Linked DNA regions of Homo sapiens: regions 1 and 2 are each linked to region 3. Evidence: fine-mapped expression QTL. A gene starts in region 3. Each other region holds a variant in brackets. All regions are shown on one strand. Distances are between the middles of the regions. Region 1 has its middle 30 kb from the start of NHLH2. Region 2 has its middle 2.1 kb from the start of MAB21L3. Region 3 holds the start of SLC22A15 (solute carrier family 22 member 15).

What was found. PIP is the estimated chance that this variant, and not a neighbour inherited with it, causes the effect.
Region 1: its variant is fine-mapped to the expression of SLC22A15 in lung (TOPMed, PIP 0.91).
Region 2: its variant is fine-mapped to the expression of SLC22A15 in neutrophils (Naranbhai 2015, PIP 0.95).

What each region holds. Positions count from the first base shown.
Region 1 is chr1:115,809,876-115,812,640 of GRCh38, reverse strand. No RefSeq gene overlaps it. Among named protein-coding and RNA genes, the nearest start is that of NHLH2, 30 kb to the left of the region's middle. The variant T/C (reference allele first, on the strand shown) is at 1,357.
Region 2 is chr1:116,107,896-116,110,660 of GRCh38, reverse strand. No RefSeq gene overlaps it. Among named protein-coding and RNA genes, the nearest start is that of MAB21L3, 2.1 kb to the left of the region's middle. The variant A/T (reference allele first, on the strand shown) is at 1,298.
Region 3 is chr1:115,975,231-115,977,995 of GRCh38, reverse strand. It overlaps SLC22A15 (solute carrier family 22 member 15), which reads right to left and starts at 1,483. Exons shown (of 12, transcript NM_018420.3): 1 at 1,282-1,483. The coding sequence starts at 1,368. It overlaps LOC101928977 (a long non-coding RNA gene), which reads left to right and starts at 720. Exons shown (of 5, transcript NR_125970.1): 1 at 720-899. RefSeq lists silencers at 1,097-1,346, 1,407-1,636.

The sequences.
Region 1 (2,765 bases), 170 kb after region 3:
CCGTCTCAAAAAAAAAAAAAAAAAAAACAATTTCTCGAGATCTCAGCTCTTTGAGAAAGTGCATATGATGAGTTGGTGACCCATTGCATTTTTTGATCTATTTCATCAAAAGACTTAGGTTGTTTATCACAGTATTTCAGATGGTTACAGTTATGAGACTGGGTGTACACAATTACCAACCATAATGATATTTATATATACATTTCACTTTTTGACCTATTTCTTTATGAATACAGTTGTCTGCTCATCACGATGTGACTGTCAGTATACCTGAGTAGTTATGATTGCAAAAATGTATTACTTTTATCTATTTTATTGTATAAAGTGGCCTGTGAGTGTTCTGTCATTTTTATATGTATCTCAAATAAAATATCTTTAAACTAATTTTAAAATTACTTTTCCCAGAATTGTAATTTTGTGATTTTGATTTTTGGGGATTTCAACATGTGGGATTATCACATTTGAGATTGTGTCTTTTGGGATTATGATTGGCTCTTGGTGCAAAGAAACAACAGACAGAAACAACAAGCTCTATACTGAGATCTACAAGCAATTTGGATTGTCAAAGGCAATCTTGAGAGGCAGAGGAGACAAGAGGCTGGAGTAGGGGCAAGAGAATGTTCCATTCAGAGTCATGGAGCTTGGATTTCATCCTACAGGCCATGGGGAGCCACTGAAGGGGAGACTTAGTTTCATTAAAGCTCACTCTGACTGTAGTGGGATGACAGTGGGCCAGGAGGCTGGGGAGGAGCCTGCTGCAATGGTACAAGTGAAGGATGACGTTGATCTGGACTAGGTAATGCTGGCAGAGGCTCAGAGGAAGGGCAGGTCTGAGTAATGTTTAAGGGTGAAATGGGTAGCACTTAGGAGTGATGCTCGGTGGGGACAAAGGGTTGAGGCCCCTTGAGGATGACTCATCCTTGAAGGAATCCCCCAGCAGGTTTCCCACTCTCAGCAGTAGCATAGGTAGTGTGGACACTATCAACCCTTATGCCCAGCACAGATGGTCTGACCAAATGCTCATGGTTACCAAAACACTGCTATTGTGGGGAGCTGAGTCTCTATGCAGAAAGGCTTCAGTCCTGAGGCCACTGGCCAGAAAAAGTCCCTCTGCCTCCAAACTACCCCTTCTTGCTGGGAAGGAAAGTGTTAGCTCAGGAGATCTGAGTTGCTCAAACCCTATACATTCCCAAGAAAGGCCTGATTTCCGCAATGGCCCTTGGCCAGTTTCCGGGAGATAAGCTCTGAGTCCCTGGATATTCTGCCTGATAAGGGACATTTTGTTTGCTTGAGGCCTTGGGTCACATGTTACCAGTTGGATCAGATTGTGCTAACAATGTGACTTGTGGCAAACAC[T/C]TGCTTTTGGTCTAGGAGTGCTGGAGTCTGAGTAGCTGAAACCAGTCACACAGGTACAGCATGCCTACATGACAGATCCCCAATAAAAACTCTAGACACCAAGGCTTGGGTGAGCTTCCTTAGTTGGCAACACTTTATATGTGTTATCACACACTGAGGCTGAGAGGATTAAATACATCCTGTGCAGCTCTATTGGGAGGGAACATCTGGAAGCTTGCACCTGGTTTCTCCTGGACTTTGCCCCATGTATCTTTTCCCTTTGCTAATTTTAATCTATATCCTTTTGCTGGAATAACCTGTAACCATCAGTACAACAGCTTTCTGAGTCCTGTGAATCTCTCTAATGAATTGTCAATGAAACCTTGAGCGCCTGGGGACCCCTGACACACACCCAACTCTGGAGTGACAGAAGAAGGGACTGTTGGGAAAGCATGCAGCCAGAACCTGGCATTTCACCACAGAGTAGGTTCTGTGCAAACAACATAAGTGGGGCACTTATGTATTGCACAGAACAGATGGGCAGGAATGAACACTTGCAGAAAACACTGGGAGGATGTTTCCCAGCTTATCCAGAGTCCAAGGCCACTCCGCTCTTCTCCAAGTGGCCTTGGTGGTCTTGCTTTTGTCCAACACAGCACTTCACCTTTTAATTTTCAGCTTTTCCAAAAAGTCTAATTGTCCTTCTTCAACTCTCCAGCTTATTTCTTTTGCCAGATAGTCATGTCCAAACTGGGTACAGAACTGTAGGCAATTTTCAGATACTGTAAAGTAGAATTTACACTGAACAACAGTTGCAAGAATCTACAGTATGTCCTAGAAATGCAATACATTGCTGTGCCGGCAACTTATAGGTTATTTGAATAACATGCTGTAAACAGCTGGTAAATTAAACTTCTCAGCAATGGGTATAATCCATAGCCAGAAAACCTGAGGTTTGATTTTATGCAAATACAAGCTTTTTGTGCACAATCTTACACCTTACTTTTATCACTTTGTCAGCTGGTTTATAAAACATAAGATACATTTAATAAGTGGTGCCCACCTCCTCTACACTTTTTCCAGACGAGGACTTAGATTAATAGGTATTTCTGCTCATTATGTAGTCCAAGCCCATTCTTGTTTTTAATGACAAGCCTAGGCACTATGAACATTTTACATTCCAGTAAACATGATGACATCCTTGTATATATTTGGAAAGCCTCTCTGAGTTCTCCCCACAACCAAGTGTAACAGCACATGTAACAGCATACTCCCTTCCCCTGGCCCTGCCACTTCCTGGCTTGGTTTTCCCTTCATTATCTCCCACTCTCCACTACTGTTGGGGCCCTCAGTTCTGCACCTAGGTTAGTGGCAAGCAAGACAGGAATTTCTTCATTGTTTATGACCTCGTAGAGGCAGTGTTCTATGCA
Region 2 (2,765 bases), 130 kb before region 3:
ATCCAGGGAATAGGTGTGTTGTGGGGGCACAACCCAATTCCCTACTCCATGATTTAGCTCCTTATGGGCAAATGCTCTGAAATACAGGGCAGTCCCACAAATAGACTCTCTGACAGCTCCTGTCTGACAGTTTGATGAAGACAAGCTTTTTTTAGATGTAGATATCTGGGTAATTGGATATAGGATTCGCAAAAGGATTGAATTACAGTAAGCCTAAGGCACTTGTATGCTAGGCCACTGAGGAAATTCAAAGTTAGCTCAGGTTCTCTTCCTTCCTCAGAAAATAAATATTCTCCTTTCTCATGACTCACACCAAATGCAAGTACGGAAATGTAAACCTGCTTTGGCTCAGTTTCCATTGTGAAGACTAAGAACTTATTACAAGTCAGGTTAACAAGGCATGCAAAACCCTACGCTGCCAATCTGAGAAGTCCCGGGGAGATAATGCTAGCCCTGGTTTACCAGCAGAAGTGTTTGTTACTGATTTACTTAGTGTCTGAGATTTTAATTCCAAGAAGGAGGAAGGTTAGCTTGATCAAAATCAACCTTAAATATACAAATTTGTTAAAGTTTGCAGGATTACAAACTCTGACTTTTTTTTTTTTTTTGAGACGGAGTCTCGCTCTGTCGCCCAGGCTGGAGTGCAGTGGCGCAATCTCGGCTCACTGCAAGCTCCGCCTCCCAGGTTCATGCCATTCTCCTGCCTCAGCCTCGCCAGTAGCTAGGACTACAGGCGCCCGCCACCACGCCTTGCCAATTTTTTTGTATTTTCAGTAGAGACGGGATTTCACCATATTAGCCAGGAACAAACTCTGACTTTTTAAAAGATTTCCTGTAATCCCAAGATGACTCAGACTGAATCTGACAATGCAGAATACCAGGCAGAGATAATCGTCTGTGATGTGCTGAAGTCCACAGTAGTGAACAACCCGAGGCAGGGGCCAGTCTGTTCTGTATCTCCAGAGAAGCCTCAGTACCTAACGCACAACTGGCCCTCAATAAACATTACTGAATGCTTATTTGTTTGCATTAAACATTATGCAAAATGACATTATTTATTAGAATGTCACATTATAAAGTGACATTCTAGTAAATAAAATATATTTTAAGATGTGTAAAATCACCTTACAAATTATAAATTTAATTATATACATGCATCTGTGACTGCTTAAATTGCTATCTTCTTTTATAGAAAGGCCTGATATAAAAAAAAATTTAGCATAGTACTTGGCACATGATAAGACCTCAATAAATATTTGTGTTTATACTCCATTTCACTCCCTGAGGAAAAAGATCT[A/T]TTTTTTAAGGCTTGTTTGGTTTTTTGTTTTTAAATTTTTATTTCAATAGCTTTTTACGTACAAGTGGTTTCTGGTTATGTGGATGAATTGTATAGTACTAAAGTCTGAGATTTTGGTGCATTCATCACCCACATAGTGTACATTGTACCCAATATGTAGTTTTTTATTCCTTAGTCCCCTCCCACGTCCCCCTTCTGAGTCTCCAAAGTCCATTATACCACTTTGTATGCCTTTGCATACCCATAGCTTAGCTCCCAGCTATAAGTGAGAAGATAAGGTATTTGGTTTTTCCATTCCTGAGTAACTTCACTTAAAATAGTGGCCTCCAGCTCCATCTAAATTGCTGCAAAAGACATAATTTTATTATTTTTATGGCTGAGTAGTATTCCATGGTGTATATGTACCACATTTTCTTCATCCACTCATTGATCGATGGACAATTAGGTTGGTTCCATATGAAAGATCCTTCTTTTAATGTATGTGAGTAATTCTCCTGGTCTTACCTGGTGGGTAGGATTGTTCACTGGGTTGGTCTTCACAGTTCCATCAAAAAGCTGGTCTTCTTTCCTTTCACACCTGACATGGTAACTGAGATAGTTTGAATTTGATCTTTGGTCTGGGTTCAGAGGTAGGGAATCCCAAACACAAATGCCTACATAGGCCAGGTGGTTAATAAAATAAATCAGGATAGAGTAGAACAATGGAAAGCGATAGGGGTCTGCGGTGGATGCAAGAGTATATATCCTATCTGGGATATTCTAACTTGTTTGGGTTATTTGTTTATTTAATTTATCTTTTTTAAGCAACACTGTACTACACACAAGATTCACCCCTGCACTCTGCACTCCTGCAATACTAAAATAGTTACAGTTCCCTGCAAGACCCCCTCCCTCACCATCTTCTCTGGACCCTTGCACCGACAATGCTCACTGCTTGGACTCTCCCCTTACCTTCCACCCCTTCACTGGGCTTCTATTTGTTCTCCAAGATTTGTCTTAGCTGCTACCTGCTCCAGGGCCTTCTCTGATTCTCAAGACTGGGTGGGGGACTCTACACGATGCTTCTAGGCCACCCAGTGCTAAACTCCTACTTTAGCTCTTATCATACTGCATTTTGTTACTTTGCTTGTATCTAGCTCCTGTGGTACCAAAAGCTCCTTAAAGGAAAAGATTTACCTTGTTGGAAACAGTATTTGACATATAGTAGCTGCTTAATAAATGAATGAATGCATGCATGAATTAATGACTAAATGACGGTGGCCCCTTTTCTTATTCTACAATGTAATCCCATTCTATCTCCCATCTGCAGGCATAAGATAAAGTGAGAAAAGTAAAGTTAAATAATGAGTAAGCTCCCATTAGTTCATTTAGGAACACAACAAAAGTAGAAAAGGAATAAGGAAATTTTCCTTGGAAAGGCTGATTTCAACTCAGAAAGTGCAAAACAACAGGATAAGATGTTGTGTAC
Region 3 (2,765 bases):
GAGCTTAAAAGAACTTCAGAATACCACATATTCGTGAGCTGAGAACTGTTCGGCTAGAAAAAGAACTGACTCCATCATTTGAACCGTTTCTGGCTGATGATGAAATCAACTGAACTTCCAAACATTTTAATCAATAAGTCAACCCCTACCTTCCCCCATCTTCCTGTTGAGCCACTGTCTTATGCAAGCTTTAAGCAACTTGTGGACTGGTGGCTATATCCATGACCACTCTGTACTTCCTGCAGAATAACTATCATCACATGCTAACTAAATTACTTAACTGTCTGCCTGCCCCACCCGCAGCCACTGGAATGCAAGCTCCTGAGGGCAGTCAATGATTTGTCCACCATGGCATCCCTATGTTCAGCACATCCTAGCCCGTATTAAACCTGATGACTGAAGGAAAGAGTAAAATGGCTGGCTCACAGCAAATACTAAGAAAGGATTTGTGAATGAAATGCCTCTGGCATATTGAGAGAAGCGACTAATGTCAAATGAGCCATTTAAGTTGGTGAAGGACTAATCCTTGCCTGGCGCAGTTAATCTGTAGTGACCTTTCGCATATGGAATCGATATTTTGAGGCTGGGGTGTACAAGTAGGTTCTGAGAATTCTTTATAATGAAGAAGTGATTCCATTTGATAACCACACATGGTAGATGGCACTATTCGGCTCACGGGAGTCTCAGCCCAAGGCTGGCGCAGGGCCGAATGAGCCAGCAGAACTTAAACCAGAGGGAAATAAATCCTATGCTTTGAAAGCCCCTAGAAGAGTAAGCCCCCTCAAGCCCAGGAAAAGAGGCAGAGGACACCCGGCGCAGAGGGAGGCGATCCTAGACACAACCTTTTGTCTGCAGATTATCAAGACTGTGTCCTAGATTCCAAGGTGACAGTGCCACAGGTAGGGTAACAATTCCCTTCATATTTGCAGCGTGTTATAGGCAACAGCGTAGGGCAGGTAACACAATTTTGCATCCCTCCTTAACCAGCATAGCGGCTGAGAAACCTCCCCCAACACGCTCCTTCCACCACTCAAGGTGGCGGGGTGGAGGGCCCAGCAGAACCCAAGAGGCTCTGAGGCCGGCCGGCGACCTTGACGCTGCCGGCCGGGCCCAGGCCACCGCGCGGCGCCTCGCCCCTGCCCCACCCCGACGCTCGCCACACCTCGGTGTTTGCAGAGCCTCGGCCTCGGCCCCGGCCCCGGCGGTCTGGGAGCGGACGCCTAGCCCTGCGCCGGGCGGCCCTGAAGAGGGAAATGCGGCTGCGGGGCCGCGGGGACTTACCTGCAGCAGCACGGCCAGCAGGAAGCACAAGTACATCTGGTAGATGCCCATCTCCCCCACCGCCTGGAACGCCTCCTCCACCTCCATGGCGGGCCGCGCGCAGGAACCCCGCCACCCCACCGCCCTCTCAGGCGCTGCCCTCCCGCCCAGCGCGGCAACCCCTGGGCGCCCGGCACCGGCTTGGACCCGCCGGGGCGGGGATGGAAGCGCTGGCGGCGGGGCCGGGGCGGGCCGGGCCGGGGCGGGGCGCCTGCGCGGGCGGCGGGGCTGTCAGGCTCGAGAGGTGGACGCCGGGCGGGGAGCGGGGAGCGCAGCCGGGCTACGCGGGGCGAGGGGCGAGGAGGGCGTTCGAGATCCGGGGCTGGATGCCCTGGACCCGGGCCTCTGGACTTCCTGTTTAAAAAAAAAATGGTGTTTTGGTGTACGTTTTGTTTTGAGAGGGACCGCTGTCTGCGCCTTAAAGTGAGGAAAGAGGAAGTGGGCCGGGCTGAGGGCCTGAGAAGAAACATCGGGACCGCGTCCGCGTGTGACCCAGGGCTCTGCCTACAGGGGACCCGCAGCTGGCGGGCGGCCTGGCGGCTCTCAGCAATGCCTGTCGTTTTGCCCAAACCAGTTTAATGCGGGGGCTTGGGGAGCCCTAGAGCCTTCAGAGAAAAGTGCTGTCTGTGCAGCATTTCTTTCCAGTCCTATTCTGTGCTAGCCATGGGTTAAGTACACTGGTAGGCAAGCAAATTCTTGTAAAACCGTCGGATACATTTGCTTATAGAAGTATGCACGAGGTACAAAGGAAGTGCAAAAGACGAAGGGGCAGGATGTGATGGCTGCCAAGGTATTTAAAGGATAAACGGCAGTTTGTCAGGTGGAAATTAAAAAAAAAAAGCGTGGCAGGGCCAAGGGACGCTGGACACCTGCGTTAGTCCCCTCATGCCTCCACCTCCTAACCTCATTTGCCTTTTTGTTTATTATGTGTTGTCTTTTTAACAGCTGCATAGTATTCCATTGTCTAGACCATGACTTCTAGTTTAACATTGAATAGAAATGGCGACCAGCTAGTGTCCTTGACCTGCCAGTATCCTTCTTATGCTTCCAAAATTTTCCGTTAATTGTGATGTCTGTTGCAGCGTATTGGTAGCTAGGCTTTACTGGTCAGCTGCTTTCTTTTTTTAGCAATTAAATGAATGCTCACTGTAATTGAATTTATCAGTGGGTTGGAAACTGTAAACTCTATAAACTCTTAAGATTTTTTTCTCTCTCTTACTTAAGGAAACGTTTTCTGTATAAGTACTATTAATAGTTTAAAAAGTTTCCTTCTTTGGCTGTTTCCTACGAATCCTCATTATTAATAAATGCTGAAGTTTAATAAGTGCTTTTTGCATTTATTGACATGATCCTATTGTTTTTCTTCTTGAATCTGATAATCGGGTACATTATGGTAATAGTTTTTTTGATATTGAACTTTACTGGAATAAATCCTATTAATACTT